Homo sapiens: one gene and its partners. The protein of the gene in region 2 interacts with the protein of the main gene of each other region in a biochemical or structural test. Each region holds a gene or a part of one and is shown on either strand. Other genes may lie near its edges.

Region 1 (3,500 bases), about 18 Mb from region 2:
ACTGATGACTTTAGAATATTACATAAACTTAGTTGATAAAGCAGCAGCAGGGTTTGAGAGGATTGACTCCAATTTTGAAATAAGTTCTAGTGTGGGTAAAATGCTGTCAAATAGTATCATATGCTACAGAGACATCTTCAGTGAAAGGAAGAGTCAGTCAGTGTGGCAAACTTCGTCAGTCTTATTTTAAGAAATTGCCACAGCTACCACCCTGATCAGTCAGCAGCCATCAACATCGAGGCAAGATCCTCTGTCAGCAAAAAGATTATGATTTGCTGCAGGCTCACATGATTGTTAGCATTTTTAGCAATAAAGCATTTTTAAATTAAGTTATATACATATTATTAGACATAATGCTATTGCACACTTAATAGACTTTAGTGCTAACATAACTTTTGTAGGCACTGGGAAACCAAAAAATTGATGCCGCTTGCTTTATTGAGATGGTCTGGAACCTAACCTGTAGTATCTCCGAGGTATGCCTGTATCTTCATTTGTAATATGTCCTTCACATCTTTTGCCCTTTTTTATTATTTTATTTGTTGATCTTCTTTTATGGAGTTGTCAGAGCTCTTTATTATTCTGTTTACCAGTCCTTTCTCAGATGTATGTATTATAGTTATTTTTTTCCCAGTCTGGCCTGCCTTTTAATTTTCTCAATGGTGTCTTTCAAAGAACAGAAGTTTTTAATTTTTCCGAAGTTCAGTTTATCCATTTTTCTTCATGTTTATCCACTGTGTGGTATTAAAGAAGAAAGCAATGTGTATAAGAATAGCTGGTTCTTCCGTAATTAATGTTTAATAACCCCATTATTCTCCGAAGGCATCTGTCTTTGCACACCTGACCTGCTGTTCCACCAAGAAAGTTCCACAAACACTTAGCAGCAGCCAGCCTAACCTGTTTTTCTCCTTGCTTTCCACAGGGTGCCATGACTCCCGGAATCCCTATCTTTAGTCCAATGATGCCTTATGGCACTGGACTGACCCCACAGCCTATTCAGAACACCAATAGTCTGTCTATTTTGGAAGAGCAACAAAGGCAGCAGCAGCAACAACAACAGCAGCAGCAGCAGCAGCAGCAGCAACAGCAACAGCAGCAGCAGCAGCAGCAGCAGCAGCAGCAGCAGCAGCAGCAGCAGCAGCAGCAGCAACAGGCAGTGGCAGCTGCAGCCGTTCAGCAGTCAACGTCCCAGCAGGCAACACAGGGAACCTCAGGCCAGGCACCACAGCTCTTCCACTCACAGACTCTCACAACTGCACCCTTGCCGGGCACCACTCCACTGTATCCCTCCCCCATGACTCCCATGACCCCCATCACTCCTGCCACGCCAGCTTCGGAGAGTTCTGGGATTGTACCGCAGCTGCAGTGAGTACTTCGTGTTTTATGTTTCCTCCCACTTAGGAGTCCCTTTGAGTTATGTTCCTGCTCTGTTTTCAGATGGATCCTTTTATTAAGGGAGGGAGTGGCACTAACGGTAATTGTGTATCAAAATTTGCTTTATCTCACATTTGGGAAAGGGAAGCAAAGCTATCTTAGTCAGTGTCCTCAGTAAAAGGCTCTTAACAGGTTTAGAAATGTGGTCATTTGTGTTTACATACCTGAGCCAATAAAATTTAATCTGACTTTCACTGTCGTTATTATTATATTATAGACATTTCCCTGTATCTGATATCGCTAAATCACAATGTTAGGTAGTCTCTTTCCCTTATGCTATTTTAGGTCTTTAGTCACAATATCAGTATAATTTCTGGTAGTTCTTGTTTTTTGTTTTTACTATGGGTGCTGCATATAAATCTTTGAAGGTCTGTGTCCTTCCCACAAAATGAAGACGACTGTTTTTGTCATAAATGGATTTTTCTACCTAAATGAAGTGGGTTCTATATGTAACAGTGTAGTAGGGGTAGGAAATAATTTCATCTTCCTGAAAAACCAGCAAATATTTCCAAATAATTCCAGTCAATAAGAAGTGTATAGCTTTTCATTTTAGAAAGCTTATGACCAAATTAAAAGGTTACTTGCAGTCTCTGCATCTCCTCAGTTTTCTTGTACAGATACCTTCCTCCTTCATACTCCCTTTAGATCTAGTATTTCCTATTTGCATTTATTCACCTTGTTACATATATGGTTGTTGTTTATAAGCTATCTCTCATCATTTTTGGAACTAAGTGGTGTGTAATCGTGGATGCTGACTTTCACCCAAAGACCTAAATCTTGCCTCCACAATTTTGTTTGACCCCACACACAATTTTAAAAACAAAGTAATTTTAGTGATTTTAGAGAGAGCCCTTTTTAGCTCACCCTTGTCTATACCACTCCCATGTGTCCAGCATGCTTGTCTGACTCCCAGGAATATTTAAGTTTGCATTTCTGATTTAAATAATAAATTATAAACAGTACAGTCAGGTGTTTGTTTCTTGCGAGTGCCTTTGCTGTTCTGATACTCCCCAGAGCATCCAGTCATCCACATTCCTGAATTTCCACTATCTACTAAGAACCCTCCCGGGTGGTAGTTCAGTGCCCTCTCCATCTTGTAGGCTTAAGAGGGATTAAGGTAAATATTTAATTAATGAAAATATATAAGAATACATTTAACAATTATGTGACTAAAGTTGTGATAGATATACTAAAATCTACTTGGTATAGTTCATAAGTGGACAAATGCTAAAGGCAGGTGTGTATACAAGGGTGATTGGAAGGAAATAGATGATATGGAAATGAAAACATTCATTGTGTGGATCAACCTAATTGGCTTTACAGTTGTGTATCATAGACTGTACAAGAAAAAGAACCAGAAGCAACAATGAGCTGAAACCTATTGTATTTGAACCTATGTATTTGAAATCTGGACTCGATATTCTTGGGATGGTGATTTCCAGGTCCATGCGAGACAGTTGTTGAGCAGTTAATTGCATTCAAAGGGCATTGCCCATTTCAACTATATATACTTTCATAAGCAGAAAAATGTATAATGAAAATGTGGGTTTGTTGTTTAAATTTTTATTAAAATTTCTAATAGAGTTGCTTTTTAGTATATCTTTATCCTTGTATAAGTTATTCGTTAAGTGATTTAAGAACACTGAGAAATGAAAAGGGTCAGTGGACCCAGATGGCTCCATTTATCCTTATTTACTGAGAGTTAATTAGAAGAGAAAGCAGGGTTTTGCCTTTTTTTTTTGCTAAAGACACTTAGCTCTTGTTTTTCAAAAGATACTTACTTTGAGAGAACTGGGCAGTTCATGCCTGCTTGTTTTCATTATAAATAGTTACTTAGGAATAGGGTGGTGGTGGTAGCTTTTCAGAGCTCACAGATGAGAATTGAGTTTGTCTGTGAGAAGGCTAAGGGCAGGCTCTGGAGACAGACAGACTCAAATCCTGGCTCCTCCACTTGGGAGCCATTGCGTCCTGAGCAAGTTGCACTCTACCTTTAAGCCTCAGCTTATTTATCCAAATGTGGGAATACTGGTAACTTCTACCTCAGTGCGTTATATGTATTAAATGGA
Region 2 (3,047 bases):
TTGTCCAGTTAAGTGATCACCAAAGGACTGAGAATCTGGGAGGGCAAAAAAAAAAAAAAAGTTTTTATGTGCACTTAAATTTGGGGACAATTTTATGTATCTGTGTTAAGGATATGTTTAAGAACATAATTCTTTTGTTGCTGTTTGTTTAAGAAGCACCTTAGTTTGTTTAAGAAGCACCTTATATAGTATAATATATATTTTTTTGAAATTACATTGCTTGTTTATCAGACAATTGAATGTAGTAATTCTGTTCTGGATTTAATTTGACTGGGTTAACATGCAAAAACCAAGGAAAAATATTTAGTTTTTTTTTTTTTTTTTGTATACTTTTCAAGCTACCTTGTCATGTATACAGTCATTTATGCCTAAAGCCTGGTGATTATTCATTTAAATGAAGATCACATTTCATATCAACTTTTGTATCCACAGTAGACAAAATAGCACTAATCCAGATGCCTATTGTTGGATACTGAATGACAGACAATCTTATGTAGCAAAGATTATGCCTGAAAAGGAAAATTATTCAGGGCAGCTAATTTTGCTTTTACCAAAATATCAGTAGTAATATTTTTGGACAGTAGCTAATGGGTCAGTGGGTTCTTTTTAATGTTTATACTTAGATTTTCTTTTAAAAAAATTAAAATAAAACAAAAAAAAATTTCTAGGACTAGACGATGTAATACCAGCTAAAGCCAAACAATTATACAGTGGAAGGTTTTACATTATTCATCCAATGTGTTTCTATTCATGTTAAGATACTACTACATTTGAAGTGGGCAGAGAACATCAGATGATTGAAATGTTCGCCCAGGGGTCTCCAGCAACTTTGGAAATCTCTTTGTATTTTTACTTGAAGTGCCACTAATGGACAGCAGATATTTTCTGGCTGATGTTGGTATTGGGTGTAGGAACATGATTTAAAAAAAAACTCTTGCCTCTGCTTTCCCCCACTCTGAGGCAAGTTAAAATGTAAAAGATGTGATTTATCTGGGGGGCTCAGGTATGGTGGGGAAGTGGATTCAGGAATCTGGGGAATGGCAAATATATTAAGAAGAGTATTGAAAGTATTTGGAGGAAAATGGTTAATTCTGGGTGTGCACCAGGGTTCAGTAGAGTCCACTTCTGCCCTGGAGACCACAAATCAACTAGCTCCATTTACAGCCATTTCTAAAATGGCAGCTTCAGTTCTAGAGAAGAAAGAACAACATCAGCAGTAAAGTCCATGGAATAGCTAGTGGTCTGTGTTTCTTTTCGCCATTGCCTAGCTTGCCGTAATGATTCTATAATGCCATCATGCAGCAATTATGAGAGGCTAGGTCATCCAAAGAGAAGACCCTATCAATGTAGGTTGCAAAATCTAACCCCTAAGGAAGTGCAGTCTTTGATTTGATTTCCCTAGTAACCTTGCAGATATGTTTAACCAAGCCATAGCCCATGCCTTTTGAGGGCTGAACAAATAAGGGACTTACTGATAATTTACTTTTGATCACATTAAGGTGTTCTCACCTTGAAATCTTATACACTGAAATGGCCATTGATTTAGGCCACTGGCTTAGAGTACTCCTTCCCCTGCATGACACTGATTACAAATACTTTCCTATTCATACTTTCCAATTATGAGATGGACTGTGGGTACTGGGAGTGATCACTAACACCATAGTAATGTCTAATATTCACAGGCAGATCTGCTTGGGGAAGCTAGTTATGTGAAAGGCAAATAGAGTCATACAGTAGCTCAAAAGGCAACCATAATTCTCTTTGGTGCAGGTCTTGGGAGCGTGATCTAGATTACACTGCACCATTCCCAAGTTAATCCCCTGAAAACTTACTCTCAACTGGAGCAAATGAACTTTGGTCCCAAATATCCATCTTTTCAGTAGCGTTAATTATGCTCTGTTTCCAACTGCATTTCCTTTCCAATTGAATTAAAGTGTGGCCTCGTTTTTAGTCATTTAAAATTGTTTTCTAAGTAATTGCTGCCTCTATTATGGCACTTCAATTTTGCACTGTCTTTTGAGATTCAAGAAAAATTTCTATTCTTTTTTTTGCATCCAATTGTGCCTGAACTTTTAAAATATGTAAATGCTGCCATGTTCCAAACCCATCGTCAGTGTGTGTGTTTAGAGCTGTGCACCCTAGAAACAACATATTGTCCCATGAGCAGGTGCCTGAGACACAGACCCCTTTGCATTCACAGAGAGGTCATTGGTTATAGAGACTTGAATTAATAAGTGACATTATGCCAGTTTCTGTTCTCTCACAGGTGATAAACAATGCTTTTTGTGCACTACATACTCTTCAGTGTAGAGCTCTTGTTTTATGGGAAAAGGCTCAAATGCCAAATTGTGTTTGATGGATTAATATGCCCTTTTGCCGATGCATACTATTACTGATGTGACTCGGTTTTGTCGCAGCTTTGCTTTGTTTAATGAAACACACTTGTAAACCTCTTTTGCACTTTGAAAAAGAATCCAGCGGGATGCTCGAGCACCTGTAAACAATTTTCTCAACCTATTTGATGTTCAAATAAAGAATTAAACTAAAGACAACGAGTTTGTTTTTTGTAAGCTCCACTTCTTGCTAGCAGTTCACCACTGATCCTCTAAAATCAAAGTGGTTAAACGATCTGTCACACACAGTGAGTCTGAATGCTAAAGCCTCTCCTCACCTCACTCCCTCTGCCCAACACCCCCAGGTGTATCAGGAAGTGTGTGGACACTGTGGTCAGGCAGAACTGGCCTCAATTCTTGGCTTCACCACTTACAAATTTTATGATCATTGGCAGTTGATTTTTCAGAGTTTCGGCTTCCTTATCAACAATATGATGATAAGTAATAACACCTAATTCACACGATGGTGGTGAGGACTAACTGAGGTGCTCATTAAACATAGTTGCTGTTTTTTAATGCCTGGCCCAAATCCTTCCCTGTGAGGGAGAAGAAGGATGCTTGAGAGTGGTTATTTATGAATGAATGAGTGAATGGAAGAATGAGTGATCTGAAATGATATAATTAGCTTAAAAACCTCTCCCTCATTCTGAAGGT
Region 3 (3,500 bases), on a different chromosome or scaffold from region 2:
AAAGGGAACAGAGAGAATGTGCAGGGGCTTCCTGGAACAAGGCAGAGAGCCTGCTGAGAGGCTGGAGGGACAGGTTGGAGAGATAAGCTGTATCTCACAACATAATATTGAATAGGAAAAATAAAAGTGTGGTTCTATGCCTTGCTTTTATTTTTGTTTTAATTTTTTTTGAGACGTAGTCTTGTTCTATTGCCCAGGCTGGAGTGCAGTGGCATGATCTTGGCTCACTGCAATCTCCGCCTCCTGGTTCAAGCGATTCTCCTGCCTCAGCCTCCCGAGTAGCTGGGATTACAGGTGTGTGCCACCACGCCTGGCTAGTTTTTGTATTTTTAGTAGAGATGGGGTTTCGCCACGTTGCTCAGGCTGGTCTTGAACTCCTGACCTCAGGTGATTTGCCCACCTCAGCCTCCCAAAGTGCTGGGAATATAGGCCTGAGCCACTGCACCCAGCTGTGCCTTGCTTTTAAAAAGTCAACCTCACAAGCACAATCTGGAGAGATGCAGTTTAACTGAATATCACGGGTAAAGAAAAAAAAACACATTCACAAGACTTTGAGATCTCGGTAAACTGTAAGCGCAAAATGAGTGACAGATGTGCCATGACCACTAAAATTCTTATGTTGAGGTAGGTGTCATTGATCAGTTCTCCTGTCTTCAATGATGCCAGTGACCAGCTTGCTTTGCTCCGGGCTGTCGGGCTGTTGTGTGATTTTCCTTTCTGAATGTTACACTTTAACGGGTACACAGGTAAACTGAAGCACATTCGTAAGGGAGGTCCACAGGACGATACAGATACTCGTCAGTAAATTATAGAAGACACAGTTAAAGGAACTGGGGCTATTTTGCTTGGAGAAGGAAAGCCTCAACAGAGACCCAATAGCTGTCTTCGAGTATCTAAGGGGCTGTCAGGAGAAGAGGCTTTAGTCTAGTGCAGAATGACCTTGAGGGTATAGCCGGGACTATTAGGCATACTGCAGCTCAATACAAGTGAGAGCTTTAGAGTCATCAGAGCTACGTGGAGATGGGGGGCTGCCTCAGCACAAGGAACAACCTGTCACCTTGGGCATTCAAGTCCATGCAGCGTGTCTTGGCGTGCAGTGAGGCAGGACCTGGCACCAAGGGCTGCACTGGACATCAGACTAGCTGACTCCTAAACCCTTTCCAAACCTGAAATCCTGCCTTCAGCTCCCATGTTCGTCACAAGAATTAATGGGGATTAGTTATGTGAAAGTGCTTTGTAAACTCTAGAGTGTTCTATATATATAAAGGGTTATTACTATTTTTTCATTACCTTGGAGTACTTCGATTCTATCCTGATTGCCATTGTCTCTACTTATCCCTCAGTTCCCTTCAACCTCATAAAAATGTCTAAATTATAAATGCAAAATGTAATATTATGACTATGATTCAAAATTTCAAAATGCTTCACAAATAGTAAATGGTTTTTCATCTTTTACTAGTGAGGGGCAGGTCCTATATTCAGTTTGCTTCTCATGGTCCTGTGTCTGTGGTTTCAAGGGATGGAGTAGCTAAGGTCTTACAGATCACCTTACAGGGAAGAACTAATTAATATCAATAGCACCCTCACAAAAATCTCTGGTAACAAAAATATCTCTACATTAATAAGCAATACACAAAAAATACACAAATAAATAACCAATACACAATAAATTGATAAATAAACCTGAGTCTACTCTGATAGAATGTGACTTCTGTCCTTTACTCAGTGTCTTCTGGTGGCCCATCAATTCTCAGGCAATCAGAAGGTCTGTTATTTGGTGGCATAGGTGAACTTGTCACAAGGTATTATGACTTGGAAAAATTAATTGCCAGATAAAGCCCCAATTCTACTTAGGTGTTCAAAGTATTTTCCCCACCTAACTCCAGTATCATCTCTAATGAAAGTAACAACTTGACAACTTTGAAATATCATCTCCTTTCATTTTTTTTTCCAGTTTTTTCTCCCTTCCATTTTTGTTTTTTGTTCACCAGAGGACTTAACAGAGAGTGACACAACATAGGCAGGCTGAGAGAAGGAAACTAGGAAAACCAGGAGAGAGCAAACTGGATACAGACACTCCTAAAAAGTACAGTTAACTCAGTGACAAAGCAGCCCTCACACCAATGTGTTCTCTAAACTGTTTATGTGTTTTATTATTTGACTGACTGAAACCCAGAGCAAACAAGGGATTCAGAGGCTGGAATTTACATAGAACATGAGAGAAGGTAAGGCTCAGATGAGGAGAAATACCAAGAAGTTTTGACATACTTCTCTTGTTGATGCTACGGATCACTGGGAAGAAAATATTTTTTAAAAGAAGCTATTAGTTTATGCTCTGTATTCAGTCTGACACCTTTTATGTGTTTATATTCCATGAGTGAGGCTTTTTAATGTAGATAGTATTTCTTCACATGACGATGACACCTATGAAGAAAAATCTACTCTATACTTTCCTATATTGTGATTATAGTGCTCTAATTATAAACATTCAGGGAAAGGGCATGGTGGCTCATGCCTATTATCCTAGCACTTTGGGAGGCCAAGATGGGAGGATTGCTGGAGGCCAGAAGTTTGATACCAGCCTGGAGAACATGACAAGACCCCGTATCTACAAAAATTTAAAAATCAGCTGGGTGTGGTGGTGTGTGCACATAGTCTCAGCTACTGAGGAGACTGAGGCAGCAAGATCCCTTGAGTCCAGGAGTTTGAGACTATAATGAACTATGATGGTGCCAGGGTATTCTAGCTGGGGTGACAGAGTGAGACCCAGTCTCTAAAAGAAAAAAAAAAGTCAGGAGTGTGCAGGAATAAATAGAGTCACAAATCATTGGCTAATCTCTTATGCACCTCTTCCAAACTCCCCAATCCATCTTTGTGGAAAGCTTGCTGAAAAATAAGGCAATGGGGCCTGTATTGAACGAGCCACTTTATTGTATGGTTTGCCTCACATTAATCTAAGCTTGAAGGACAAGCCCTGGATGGGATACTTGGCCATCAGTAGACCTAATGGAGGCCTGTTAGTGTTTGGTAAAGGTTCATGCCTTATAAGCACTAGAAGAAAATGCATGGCCAGCAGAGTGTAAGTATTCAATGTGTTCAATATGATTATGGCTGCACCAAAGCAGACACAAGTTAAAGAAAGATATTCTCCTCATGGAGCAGAGGATGAATCTTGGAGAAGCATGGGCTTCAACAATGACAAGTCCTCTGGGGGACAAAGTAAAGACATACCTTGAGTTCCATAGCTGGTGTCTATTGCAGACCCATCCCATGAATCCACAGCACTGTCCACACTGGGCACCGTGGAGGGGTACATGTCGGAGAGCTTGCCTGGCTTCTGTGCTGGTGAGGAGTCCTCCTCCACATCCCCCAGGTCACTCAAATGGCTAGAAATAGGGAACTTCTTGGGGCTCGATGCTGACTGGGCTTTATAGACAGGAAAGGAGTTTAAGTATCAGAGTAAATTTAAATAAAAATATACCAAGATACTCCGTGGCTAG
Region 4 (2,788 bases), about 26 Mb from region 2:
GAAAAAAAATGTTTTGCTTCTTACAAAATCATTTGTGTTAATAACAAAAACTTTATTTTCGGAGTGTTCTTTGTATAACTTTTCCAAGCTTTTACATTAACGAGCAGGCCTCTGTCTTAAAAGGGACTCAGTATATTAATTTCTGCATTTTTTAAATCAAATGAAAAACGTCAAATTGGACCAATTGTCTTGGTTTCTTGATTCATTTATTTGAGAAAAAAACAATACAAAGAAATGCATTCATATCAAAATTGGAATAGAAAGGAAAACCTATTTTTAAGATATCAACCTATTTTCACATCATAAAACATCTATTACATAAAATAAAGGTCCAGGCATAGTGGCTCTTGCCTGTAATCCCAGCACTTTGGGAGGCCGAGGCAGGTGGATCACTCAAGGTCACAAGTTTGAGACCAGTCTGGCCAACATGGTGAAACCCCATCTCTACTAAAAGTACAAATATTAGCCGACTATGTGGCGGGCACCTGTAATCCCACCTACTCGGGAGGCTGAGGCAGGAGAATTGCTTGAATCCGGGAAGCAGAGGTTGTAGTGAGCCAAGATCGTGCCACTGCACTCTATCCTGGGTAACAGCGAGACTCTGTCTTAAAAATAATAACAATAATAATAATAATAAAGACTTACTTAACCAATATTATTGATTACCAGACTTTTATGAAAGCCAAAGACTGCTTGCTAGTAGGAAAAAATTTCAAATAATAACCAAAGCTGAAAAATGGTCTGTCATAAATTATTTCCCCGGTAATTTTTGAAAGGAAAAATGTATAACAAGTACTATTTACATATCTGCATTTAAAAAAGCAATTCTTAGAATACTTCCTTTACATTATTCTCCTATTTTAGACATTTTGTGAAAGAGAACAAATTGTCCAGTGGCCTCCTGTCAGATCAACAATTATTATACTCCTTAATTCCATGCAAATTTAAATGAATGCTATAAAATTTTAAATCTGTAGCCTGGGTGTACGTTTCACTCAAGTTCTCCTACTGAGGACTCTTGACTAACAGCATACTGGCAGTTTCACCTTAACCTGCTCGTTAAATAATGTGTTGGTGTGAGATATCAGGAATGTCTCATGATATCACGTTTACCATTTACACCATCTGCAACCATATGCTATTAATAAAATGGAAAAAAACAAAATGGTCATTTTGCATATACTTCACTCTGACCTAGTTTAGTCCATGATACTATAATTGTGAGAGCATATCCAGATGCTGTGTTCTCTATGTAAAACAGTATTGTCCATTCAGAAATGTGTGACCCTTCATTTATGGATATTGACTATATGTAATGCAGTGCTATCCCAATATTTTCAATAAAGGACTTTATGCATTCAGTGATTTTCTTTCCCAAAGATTCATTCATCAGGTATTTACTGGGTACCAGAGTGTTTATTTTTGTGAGAGGATGGTGAAATATCCAAGACTAAACAAGGTCCAGAGCTCATGTTTTCACTGCTGCCCTGGAAACTCCCTCTTCATTCCCTGTAGCCACCCTCCTAATTGTCTCATCAGTTCACGGAAACTGCTCTCATTATGGTTACCAGAGACAACTCTTGGCTGTATCTACCAGTCTCTTCTAATCTTTCTAGCTGTGCAATGAATGACAACCTCCTCCTCTTAACATCTGTCTTAACCTACTTCATAATTTCCGTAAGGGACACTTTACTCTCTGATAAATTTTCTTTGGCATCCTGACACCTAGCCCCTAGATGTTGGGCTAGATGAAGACCCCAAGCAGTCTTCATTGCTTCATAATTCCTCAGTTCATAAGTCCATATCAAAGGACTTGGGTGGGAGGAGGCAACCAAATGTTTCTTCAGACTCTACTGAAAATGATTAGATGCATCCCCGTGCTACAAGCCACCAGAGACATCCTGCACTATTATAAGTATGTCTTCCCTTAATTTGATCTCCCTCTCCTTGATGCCTTTTAAAGTTTTAGAGACACATTGATATGGTTTGGCTGTGTGTCCCCACCAACATCTCATTGGAATTATAATCCCCACATGTTGAGGGAGGGACCTAGTGGGATGTGATTAGAACATGGGGGCGGTTTCCCCCATGCTGTTCTCATGATAGTGAGGGAGTTTTCATGAGATCTGTTTTAAAATGTTTGGCAGTTCCACCCTCACCCTCTCTTCTGCTGCCATGTAAGATGTGCCTTGCTTCCCCTTTGCCTTCTGCCATGATTGTAAATTTCCTGACGCCTACCCAGCCATGTGAAACTGTGAGTCCATTAAACCTCTTTTCTTTATAAATAACCCAGTCTCAGGTAGTTCTTTATAGTAGTGTGAAAATGGACTAATACACACATGAAACAGCATTAATGAAAGAATTACTCTCCTTTTGAGGAAGCCATTGAGAATCTCTTAAGCCAGAAAGGAGTGTTACGTTTCATGTTTTTCTTAGGATGCCTAACCTATTTTTACCAATTTAATTCGATACAGAAAGGTAAGGAGGTCAGAAACCAAGGGAAATTCCAGAAAACTCAAGGGAAGCCACACTCATTTCTTGTGCATGTATCAAAAGTGCCTTTGACCACTTCCTTCTGCCCAATGAGGTCACTTACTCTTAATCAGAGAAAGCCCTGACTTCAAAGCATCACATTCTCTGTCACCTCCTGGCCTATGACCATTATCCATAGTGAGCCCCTAACAGAAGGTGTTTTTACTGAAAAAAAAATAAGCTTCATTCTTCACACCAAACTCTTAAGATCTTATTCCCTTTCTATTTCAAATCTCTAGTGGTTCAGAATAAAAAT

Evidence for each region. Proteins that work in one complex are often made in the same cells at the same time.
Region 1: the proteins of ESR1 (region 2) and TBP form a complex in vitro, tested with the Homo sapiens proteins (2 studies listed by BioGRID).
Region 3: the proteins of ESR1 (region 2) and GRIP1 form a complex in vitro, tested with the Homo sapiens proteins (2 studies listed by BioGRID and IntAct).
Region 4: the proteins of ESR1 (region 2) and NCOA7 form a complex in vitro, tested with the Homo sapiens proteins (2 studies listed by BioGRID).

The regions. Positions count from the first base shown.
Region 1 is NC_000006.12:170,560,869-170,564,368, forward strand, and holds part of TBP (TATA-box-binding protein), read left to right. Parts: intron 1-922; coding exon 923-1,365; intron 1,366-3,500. UniProt on the Homo sapiens protein: The TFIID basal transcription factor complex plays a major role in the initiation of RNA polymerase II (Pol II)-dependent transcription.
Region 2 is NC_000006.12:152,100,728-152,103,774, forward strand, and holds the end of ESR1 (estrogen receptor), read left to right. Parts: 3' UTR 1-2,547; downstream 2,548-3,047.
Region 3 is NC_000012.12:66,389,077-66,392,576, forward strand, and holds part of GRIP1 (glutamate receptor-interacting protein 1), read right to left. Parts: intron 3,427-3,500; coding exon 3,232-3,426; intron 1-3,231. UniProt on the Homo sapiens protein: May play a role as a localized scaffold for the assembly of a multiprotein signaling complex and as mediator of the trafficking of its binding partners at specific subcellular location in neurons.
Region 4 is NC_000006.12:125,929,747-125,932,534, forward strand, and holds the end of NCOA7 (nuclear receptor coactivator 7), read left to right. Parts: 3' UTR 1-2,288; downstream 2,289-2,788. UniProt on the Homo sapiens protein: Enhances the transcriptional activities of several nuclear receptors. Involved in the coactivation of different nuclear receptors, such as ESR1, THRB, PPARG and RARA.